2 separate regions of the Homo sapiens genome follow, and region 1 is linked to region 2. Evidence: fine-mapped expression QTL. A gene starts in region 2. The other region holds a variant in brackets. All regions are shown on one strand. Distances are from middle to middle.

Region 1 (5,389 bases), 66 kb before region 2:
CCTTGGTGGGTTCCTTTCTCCATAGAAAAAGTAAAACCTTTATTTCATGTCTGCATTGGTATAAAGATTAATACCATTATTATTGTTATCCTCATTTTTTCCTTCTGATTGAAAAAAAAATGAAAACGCTGTGCCTAATGGATGAGTCAGCCCTTTTGTAGAGGGGGTAGAATGATTATAGACTTGGTTAACAGAGAGGGAAGTAGCCAAAGAAATATAGAGAAAGTCCCTCTAAGGGAGCACACAGGGACTGGAACTGGATGCTGGAGATTGAGGAACAATTACCGAGCTCAACAGGTCAGGCGGTTTGAAGACAGGAGCCAGTGTGGGATCTGCAATGTCATATACTGGGTCACGGAGGACCTTCTGGAAGTTACTGACAAATGAGGTGATGATACTAATCATCGATGTTTGGGACTGAGAAAAAAAAATAAGGAATTGGTGGATTTAAGACTGAATAAAATTAAGACAAAGGATTTAGACGAACTGCGGAAGTGGAGGTTAGAGTTTATATTACAGAGGCAGTAGAAGTATTTGTCAATAAAATAAATTATGCGGGTACACATAGAGTTTTAAAATCCCAATTCAGGAAATGGTGTAGGTATAATAATAAACCCTGACGATTAGCAGATGCCAGGCATGGTATACCAAGCATTTCTATATTTTATTCCTGTTATATCTCACATTATTAGCCCCTGTGTGCAAGTGTGCAAGTACCCTGTGTGATGGGTACTCAGTAAATGTTGGATGAACCTTACACAGGCCAGAGAGGGGCAAAGGCAGAGACTATCGTGTGAAAGGGCAGGGGTGAGGGTGGGCTGAGGTGGGGCTGTGTGCTGAGGAAGGGCTGGGGCTGTCTCACTCCTGAGGCCCAGGATGCAGCCAGGCCTCAGGAGTGAAACAAACCTTGACAATACGTGCCCTGGCCAAGCTCTGCATACTCTCCTAGAGCCTTGGCTTCCTCTACAGAAAGGAAATAACAATGCTGATTTGGATAAGCACTAGGTAGTCATCATAATGGTTCATTCCTCTGCCTGACTTCCATCACATAAACAAACTCCTGCAAGAAGAAGTGCAGAGGGCTGTTTTTAAATCGTCATTCCCTTTTCCTGCTGCTACTGCCAGACAGGCAGCTGTCAGAGAACCAAAATGCTGTTCAGCAAAGACAGAAGAATGCAGAGGAGGTGTGACCCTCAAGAAAACCTTGCCACACTAGGTGACTTTGAATAACAGGAAGGAAGCATCTGTGATCCTAGAAGTATTTAAAAAGCAAGCATTAAACATGGCCCCATTCCCCAAGAAGGTAAGAAGGAGAAATAACAATGTTTGTTTATTAACAGGAAGTTGCACAGTTCAGATATGAACGGGCTGGTACAGAAGGCTTTGGATGCATCAAATGTCTATGAAAATATTGTTAATTATGTTAGTGAAGCCAATGAAACAGCAGAATTTGCTTTGAACACCACTGACCGAATTTATGATGTGAGTATTCCCTGAAAGTTCTTTATACCTTGCCTTTCCCACTGGCTTTTCTGTTTTCTGATGTCATCTCTTGAACTTCCAGTGTGAAATCCAAATGGCAGAAAGAGTGGAAAAGGCAGGGGAACTAAGGGAAGACCATTTCATGAATGCCTTGAAGGTTTCAGTCTGCAGATTCTTCGAGATGTGCTGTAGTCCAGTCAGCAAATGCCAGTTCCTTTGACAGTTTATTTTTTTAGCCAAAGTCCCTGAAAAAAAAAATATGTATTTAAAATTAGTTCTTGCTGATAGAGAAGATACTTTATGCATTCATTTATATTTTTTTCAACTCAAAATTATTTATTGTGTGGCTTCTATGTGGCAAGCACTTTGGTGGGGCCTTGGCCAGGGCTTTGTTCTAGGTTCACTGAATCTTTCCCAAAAAAACATTACCTTGAAAATGCCAAAGGCATTACTTCCTCATGGTCACATATTTGACCTTAATTTTAAGCTGTGAAAATAAAGCTAAATGCATTTTGCTTGGTGTTTAGCAGATAAACTGTGTCATTTAAATCCTTCAACTATGAATAGCTGATTTCTTCTGCTGTCATTTTTACCCTCTTCTCTCAATTCCTTTGTAGGCGGTGAGTGGGATTGATACTCAAATCATTTACCATAAAGATGAAAGTGAGAACCTCCTCAATCAAGCCAGAGAACTGCAAGCAAAGGCAGAGTCTAGTAAATATCTTCACTTTCCTATCTCCTTTCTAATTTATAGCTGCTTCCCTCCTTTCATACACGTAGACAGAGATTTCCAAATCTAGGATTAAAGAATAGTATTATAACTACATAACATATCAGTAGTTCCTGCTCAGAGTCAAGTTACAAAAGAGCAAAGATTTGATACTTTAAATTGTGATTGAAAAAAAAAATGCTATGTAGTAAACTACATGGAAACACATAGCTATCTCACATACTGTGGCTATTCCTGCTAATCAAATAGGCTGATTAATAGAAACTTACCATAAATACCAATTTTTAGGGGAAAAATGTCCTAAAATACACTTAACACTAAAACTATATTGCACAAAATTTCCTCTTTCTTGAACAATTTCGAAGTCCTTTTAAAATGTTTCCCATGAAGGAA[C/T]GAGTCATCACTGTGAGTCAATTAGGATGACAGGGTACCACAAAGCCATCTGGTTATTTGCTTTTCTTTTTTTTTTTTTTTTTTGTAGTTTGTGTTCTACATAGGTTACTGTATTTAGGACAGACCTAACAAGCATATGGTAAGAAGCATTTCCAAAGGCCAGTGTTTGCATCTGCTGAAGTGTGCACATCCAAGGGTGAGGGAGGGAAGGAAAAATAAAAGCAAAATCGCATTAGACAATTTTGAATCTTGTGAGTTACTCTTAAAAACAATCGAATGGACTAAGAAATTCACTAAACATTATTCATCTCTGAGATAATGAACTAATTCCCAAGGATTTTTGAACATTGACTAATGAGGTTGGAAATTCATCATCTAGCGAACTTCTAACTGCCACCTAAAAACAAAGGCCAAGTTTGAAACTAAAAACCTCACCCAATTTTGTTGAAGTAATTAATCTCATTTAATCATGCATTTTCTTTATCTTTTGCAAAGAGCCATTACACAGAGAAGATAAATGCACTTTGCTTTTCATACACAGATACTTATTTATTTCCCATAAAACAACTGTTATTTTATTTTTCTGGGCAAACAAAGGCAATAAAAAGTGTCATTGTTTCTCTAGTCTAATTATTATATGTCTAATTAATTTATTATGTAAGTCTATCCTGAACATACTCTATGGATTAGAATATCAGTAGTGAAGAATTAGAATATTAACAGTAAAATATTTTAAAATAAATGTTGCTATATCTATGTATTGCTTTTGTTTCTTGTGAAGATCAGAATGTGTCAGTCTTCATGACACAGTGACTTAAATATTTTATTCTTTTTGATAACTTGTAATATATTCTCTCAGTCTTGTCATTATTGAGTTATTGAACCTCATAAAAGCAACTTTTCTATTTTAAATTTAACCATTAATCGATCCCTACCCACATCCCTTCAAAGTTCCATATTTTATGTCTGATAAATCTCTCTGCATTAGCCTGTTTGAATATTTTGCAGACCTGTTCACCTATTTCATGATCTCATTTGGCCAAATCCCTTTCTGTATTTATTTGCAAAAGGAACAACAACAGGGAGTTAGTACTGTGTGGCTTAGAACTTTATAGGACTGTCTTCCTTTGATAATACACACATTTGTGATGTACATTCAGGTTTTCAAATTAAACCATAGTCATCTACTGAATTACATTATAATTTCAGATTACATTTCTCCATTCCAAATTCCTTTCAATGATCAGTAATCTTTATTTCCCAAATTTCCTTTTCATTATATATCAAATAGTTGATAGTCAATATAATCTCAGGAAGCTGCTATTTAAATGAATCTTCTACTTAACTCATTTGCAAAATGAAAAGTATTTATGCAAGTCAGTAAATTCCAAATAGAACACACTTCTTATGAAACATTTCTTCTTATAAACATCAAGCCCAAAATTGATTTTCTTCCTCCTCTTTTTATCAAGTGCTCCAAATATAGAGTTAAATATATTCTTTCTCAGTATATCAGGTAGTATTTTTTTTTGTTTTTGCAGTCATGAGACCCAAAATAAGAGCTAAAACATTGTTTGTATTATAATGTTTGGGAATTGAAATTAGAAAAGAGGAAGGAGGCAGGGTGCAATGCAAATTCTTCACACTACCCAGAGAAAATATGAAAGAAGTGCTTGTATTTGGTTAACTGTACTTCATGACACCACCACCCATTATACACATATCTGGGGGGGAAAGATAACATTAAACCAATCACATCAAGACTACCTAATAGAACAGCAAAGGGGTGCCGTCAGAGAGTGTATATTTACAATCCCATTGGAGAGAAAGAGAAAAGTGTAATTAGAAGTGATAAAACTATTTTTCTGTTTGTTAAGAAACAAAATTCTCAGTGCTTTGGAATTAAAGCACAAACAGAAATGAAGAATTACTGGCAAAGTTGATCCTTTAGTTCAGATGATGAGGTAATTACATCATGATCTGTTGGGATTTGCTCAAAGATAACCAGTCTAGTGACTGTGCCACAAGTGTGCTTTCAAGAACAATTTTATAAGCAAAAGACTCTCAAAACTGATGCAAATACAAAATCTGATAGAACTGTATGTACATACATATGTATAATAAATTTAACCACTAATCGATCCCTACCCACAAAGAAATCTCAAGGCTCAGATGGCTGCCCCAGTGAATTCTTAAACATTTAAAGAAGAAATAACACCACTTTTATACGAGCTCTTCTAGAAAATAGAAAACAAGAAAGCACTCTGGAACTTGTTTTATGAAGCCAGCAAAACTTGGTTACTTGAATCACATAAGGATATTATTAAAAAGGAAAATTATAAGCCAAATTCTCTCACAAAAAGAGATGCAAAAATTCTAATCAATATATTAGCAAATCAAATCTAGCACACCTATAAAGTGCAATATATGATGACCAATTTGAGTTTATTTTAGGATTTCAAGAATAGTTTAACATTTAAAAAATCAATTGTAATTTGTCACATTTATAGGATATAGGAGAAATTCATATGATCATCTCACTACATGCAGAAAAATTATTTAACAAACTTGACTTTTAAAAAAGATTTTTGACTTTTAAAAAAGACTTTCGGCAAACTGAGAATAGAAGGAAACTTCCATAATCTGAAAAATAAAATAATATTCAGCAATTAAAATGGAAATATTGAATGCTTTTCCACTAATATTAGAAACAATACAAGGACACCCTACATTACCAATTCAATGTGTAAAAATCCGATTTAATTTTACATACGACATTGGGAA
Region 2 (5,389 bases):
TGTTTTACACCACTGAGATTTTGGGGTTGATTGTTACCACAGCACAACAAAGTTTATGCTGATGTATACAGACTTTGGTCCAGACTTAGGTACCGCTATAACAAAAATCTAAAATATAAGTCACCATACCTAAGTGGTCAAGCAGCAATTAACAAGGAAACTGTTGTGGAAAGCTAAAAGGATAGTGATCTATGTCACCCAGGAACAAACCTATTGGGAAAAATCTTTGGAAAACTCTGTGATAACCTAGAAGGCATGTGATTTAACTAATGAATTTAAATGTTGGGAGAAGAGGCTGGAAAACAATAACATGTCAGTTGCTACTGTTTGTCAAGTTATATGAGAAAGAGATGAGCTCAGAAATGGCGGTGTGCAAGCAAGAATAAAAACAGACCACCCACAACTCTGAATTATATTTTAATGACAACTTACAAAAGCTACAGAATAATTTTCTTCTAAAACATTTTATTCCCCTTCAGAACTTTGCAGCATGTTTTCAATGCCTTCCAGTACTGAATGTGCTATATAGATGAGTCTAAAGTACTCTAATTAATTGTTTTTTCTTCATCCCACTCCCCCGTTCATTTCATGCCTAGGTACCTAAAAAATTCTCTCTTTATTCTGAAAAGTTGAATGCCTTAATGAGGCTGCATGTCTTGGTGTTGATTTTTCTATAAATTGTCCTATAGAACATAGTGTGTATCCTTTTAATCTATGTATTTTTCTTCCTTTTTTTTTATCAAGTACATTTTTTCCTCCATTTGCTGTGGGCACATGTTAATCTTATGTTGAGCCATCTTTGTCTCCTTCATACATATTATTTTTAATAACTTTCATATCTCTGGGTTTTGCCTAGTATTGTTATTATTTTAAGACTTTCCTCTACATTATAATTTGATGTGCATCTCTCTAGTCTGCTTCTTAAATGCTTTTAAAAATTATTTCTTTAAGTCCTTTAAGGTGGATGTTGTTGTCTTCAGTTAATTTCCTTAGTTCTTTTATCTCCATTTTATTTCATTTATTCATCAAATATTTATTTACTATCTACTATATGCAAGGTACTATCCCTAGTAGTGGATAAAACAACAAGACTCAGCCCTCATAGAGCTTGAGTCTTATTATTTTAGTATCTTGTCTTTAAGTTCCTGTTTTATTGCATTCATATTCTTAAGTTCTTCTTCAGCACAAAGTAGATATGATGAATTTTCTTTTCTCCCCTCTTAGGCTAGGTTTTACCCCAAGGTCTTGTACTTTATCCATCTTTTACATCGTTCCTTCCTTCCTCTCCCCCTTCCCTCCCTCTCTCCCTTCCATCCTTGTCTTCCTTCCTTCAATTTTAGGAGTCCATAGGATTCCCAATAATTTTTTTCTTTTTCATTTTCAGCATGTGGAATTCTGTTCACTCTATTTGCTCTGTATGTTGGTCAGCTATCACTACAATAAAACTGCACCCCAAAATTTCAGTAATTTCAACCAAAAACATTTCTCTTGCTTATAATATTCTGAATAGCCCGCTGCGGTTCAACCGATCTCAACTTGGCTCACCCGGGTTTGCATATACGGAAGTTTTGGAGTGGCTGGCATGTGAGGCTCTACCTTGCTTGGCTCTTAAGCAGAACTGTCTCTCAGTCTGATTCTCTAGAGACTGAAGTTATTAATAAGATGTGTTAGGACTTTTCTTTCCTGTGTGGGGAATAATGACTGGGACTGCATGAAGGGTAGGGCTCTGCAAAGGCCAGTGTATCATCTCACCTAGCACTGATAACACACTGATACAGACCTATTCACATCACTGCCTACAAACTGGACCAAGACTTGCAAATTTTGGAAGCCCCAGACGTTGGGACTTTAGCATCAAGACCTAAAATGCCCAACTTTACCTCTACCACTGACCCCATACTCAGTAAGAAGTTAAGAATAAATCCAGCCTACAAAAATTTACTGACCGAAAGCTGCCTATTACCAAAAGATATAAAATCCATTGCAACTTTAAACCTACCGGCTACCAGAGAAATTTAATAGTAACTACTACGTGTCTTGGTGGGACAATAAAGTGTTCTAATCCATTGAATATTACAGTTCATATTAGCACATATTCATAGCACATACCATATAACTTTTTATTAAACAAAGAAGACTTCTTAGAGTTTCGTAGTTCTTCAGAATTTTTGTGGAAAATATTAATTTCATTAAAGAAGTACTTGAGTTCTTAATTAAAATCTGGTCTAATTTGATCAATAGAAGTTTACATATTTTAATGTTTGACAATTTTAAGTAGTTGGTAATTGTCATAATGCCTAACTTTTTAATCTTCTCCTGCCTATCCCATCTAAATACCCATCTAAATGCCTAGTGTTAATCTCGTGTCTTCTATCAGACTTCTACATACTCATCTACATCCTCAACCACTGAATCCTATTGCACTTATAGTCAACGCCACACAATTCTTTAAGTATTTCGCGTGTATGTCTTCAATTAGATTGTAAGCTTCTTGGAACTGGATCTATGCCTTAATTTCTTTCTAATCTTCCCAGCGAGCCTACAAGTTAATTTGGGGAGTATACAGCGTTCAACAAATACTGGTTGGGTCTGTGACCTTAGCTTTGCCATTTTTGTCAAAGCGTATAACCATCTAGTTTCAATTGTGCCCTGACATGACTATTTCTCTGGGGTTTCTCTTTGCTCAACGCCATTGTTCATTTTCTATTAGAATAAAGGGCTTGTTGAACAGAGATGCCAACGCAGCGTCCCGTGGAATCTGAATAAACGGACTGATCCACCGCCCCGGGTGTTGAGGCTGTGAACAAAAATTAAACCTCTGATAGCCCACGAACAGCTTAACGACACATATTTTAAAATACCACTCCAAAGCCTAGTTACCTGCCAGTTACCCCGGCCTCCGGAGCTGCCGATGCTCGAAGATGTTGACAAGGCAGCTAGGATATACAGTCCAGAAGCCCAGTCGCTACGGTAACGGTGACACGCAAGTGCACTTGCGCGGCCTTCTGACGGAAAACCTTAGCCTGAACCTACAGACGTGCTTAGCGACGGCAGAGGCTTGCGGCAGTAGCGTGACTTACGGCAGCTCTCTAGCAGAGCGCCGTTGCTGGGGGAATGCAGAAGCGGCCGCGGGCTAGCAAGCTCCCGGAGCCGGCGGCGCACCACCATGACCCAGTCGGTGGTCGTACAGGGTAAGCTACGCCGGGCGGGTAGAGACCTGGTCGCCGCGGAATCCAGCGGCCATGTTTCCTGCTTAATGTCCTATTCTCTTTCCTTCCTCTCCTCCGGTCGCAGTCGGCCAGTGCGGAAACCAGATCGGCTGCTGCTTCTGGGACCTGGCACTAAGGGAGCACGCCGCGGTCAACCAGGTACCCGCCCGCCGCCGCGAGCCCCCTCGCCTGTCAGCTAGGTCTTCCAGCCCATACGCAGGAAATAATCGACTTGAGCTTTCATCTGACCCGTTTAAGATGCATGGGATCTTCCCAGTAAAGAACGTACTGGTTTTTAAACATGTTGCGTCAGACACACACTAAACTAAAAGAACACTGGCCAGCGACCTTAGTCTTAACGTTTTTCCTGATTCTCAGGGTCTCCTCTTTATTGGTGTTCGTGTGCAGAACAGTGAGATTTGTATATGGGAAAGTACTTTGTAAAATAGATAACACGTGTGGTTATTGTATTCCTTAATTTAACCAGTCAGCTTTTAAAAAGATTACGAAGAATCCAGAGAACGCTCATTTGATGGACCTGTCCTACAGTCCTATGGGTGAAATCCTTTCTTTAGCACCCCCTGCTGAACTTTTTATCTGTAGATCTGGCATTTACTCTTCTAAGGAGATTGGGAAGAGTCAGGCTCCGCATTTTGTGATACTTGGTTTTTCTTATCAGAGTCTCATCCTAGCCATTACAGTATTATGTAATTAAAATTGAAAGAACTTGATTTGGGCGAGAAGCAAAACCTAAATGCTATTAACATATGTTTTTCTTTTTAGAAAGGAATTTATGATGAGGCAATAAGCAGCTTCTTTAGAAATGTGGACACCAGGTAAGATGGGATTAAAGTCTGTCACAGTGTGATACTTTAAGTTTCAGTAGCTTGGGAGAGAATTCTTCAAAGGACAATAAAAATAGCCAGCTGCGAAGTTGTGTTTTTTTGTTTCATTATTGAAAGCATATTTATTCTATTAGATTATTAATATTCTTATATCATTTTCCCGAAGAAGACAACAGATTTCCCTTTAGTGTGACTTCTTTTAACTTAACCTTGAAATAAGTTTCATTAAAAGAAAGCTGAAATTTTCCCAGAGGGCATCTTGTTAATGCATCCTGTAATAACTAACTTTTGAAAGAAAAATATATTGTTTACATATATGCTGTAAGTATAAAAATATACTTAAAAAGGTGACAAGCAGTTGTTGGATTGTTTTTGTTTATTTAATAAAGAGTATATGTAAGTACCATATATGTTTTATCTGGAAGAGTAATTTAAGTTGCCGTTTAGGATATCTCCATAAGCTTTTAATATTAAATCATTAAGTTCATGCATTTTCAAAATACTTCATAAAACTAACTGTCCTGTGCTTAAACTGAAAAATACATACTTCGTGTCAGGCTTTAATCCAATAGGAACATCAGTTCTAGTTTAAAATAGTTGGCTGGGTGTGTGAGCAGTTATCTTCAGAGAAAGCTGATTAGTCCGCGCTTCCTGGGTGAATTCCAGAGTCTATCTAGGGCACTGGCTTGCAAACTCAGAAGTGTCATTGGCATCTCGAGATGGGTTCAGTGCTCTCCAGTACAGCCAGGTTAACCAAAGACCAAATTCTCATTTTCATAGGCACATTACTTTATCTTTTGTAGGAAATCTAACTGAAAAGCTGTGTAATAATCTGAAGGTTGCTTGGTGACCATGGAATCAGACCAAAGGAAGTTAGTTACTTTAATGGCTGGTATCATTTATATTTATTTTATGGAGATATCTGTCATATAGACTATAGATTCCCTCTTATTTGTAGCCCACAATATCCTCACCTCTAAATTCTCTTAGGAGACTCAAATTTGCTTCTGTCATACTTCCTTTCCGGCGCTTCTCTTGCTAAGTTCCTACACCCACCTCTTTACTTCTTGTTACCCAACGCTTACATTGAGTATTACATAGTTGAGACTCAGCCTGGGAGCTTTTCTTTCTTCATAAGGTGACTCTTCATAACTACACTCTCATCTACTCTGTGTGTTTTATACTTTAACCTGAGAGCACTATTATTTTCCCGGTAAGTTTGGCAAACAGGGTTGTGGCATCTTGCACTTCTTTCTGTGTACTATCAACACATGCAGCATCTGTTCCACAGCTTAGTACAAAAAATATTTTTCAAAGTAAAACCATATCTTTGTG

Which allele goes with the higher level. Positions count from the first base shown, and alleles are read on the strand shown. Sizes are in standard deviations (SD) of each study's normalised expression.
With allele T in place of C in region 1, the expression in monocytes after R848 of the gene that starts at base 3,119 in region 2 is higher (large effect, 0.82 SD a copy in Quach 2016).

What was found.
Region 1: its variant is fine-mapped to the expression of TUBE1 in monocytes after R848 (Quach 2016, PIP 0.95).

The regions. Positions count from the first base shown.
Region 1 is chr6:112,151,658-112,157,046 of GRCh38, reverse strand. LAMA4 (laminin subunit alpha 4) reads left to right here. Exons shown (of 39, transcript NM_001105206.3): 15 at 1,341-1,482; 16 at 2,100-2,196. It overlaps LOC107986633 (a long non-coding RNA gene), which reads right to left. Exons shown (of 2, transcript XR_001744299.2): 2 at 1,314-1,727. Among named protein-coding and RNA genes, the nearest start is that of FAM229B, 67 kb to the right of the region's middle. The variant C/T (reference allele first, on the strand shown) is at 2,606.
Region 2 is chr6:112,085,212-112,090,600 of GRCh38, reverse strand. TUBE1 (tubulin epsilon 1) reads left to right here and starts at 3,119. Exons shown (of 12, transcript NM_016262.5): 1 at 3,119-3,191; 2 at 3,295-3,368; 3 at 3,993-4,045. The coding sequence starts at 3,167. It overlaps FAM229B (family with sequence similarity 229 member B), which reads right to left and starts at 3,010. Exons shown (of 4, transcript NM_001033564.3): 1 at 2,881-3,010. RefSeq lists enhancers at 2,950-3,139, 2,874-3,405, 3,540-3,589.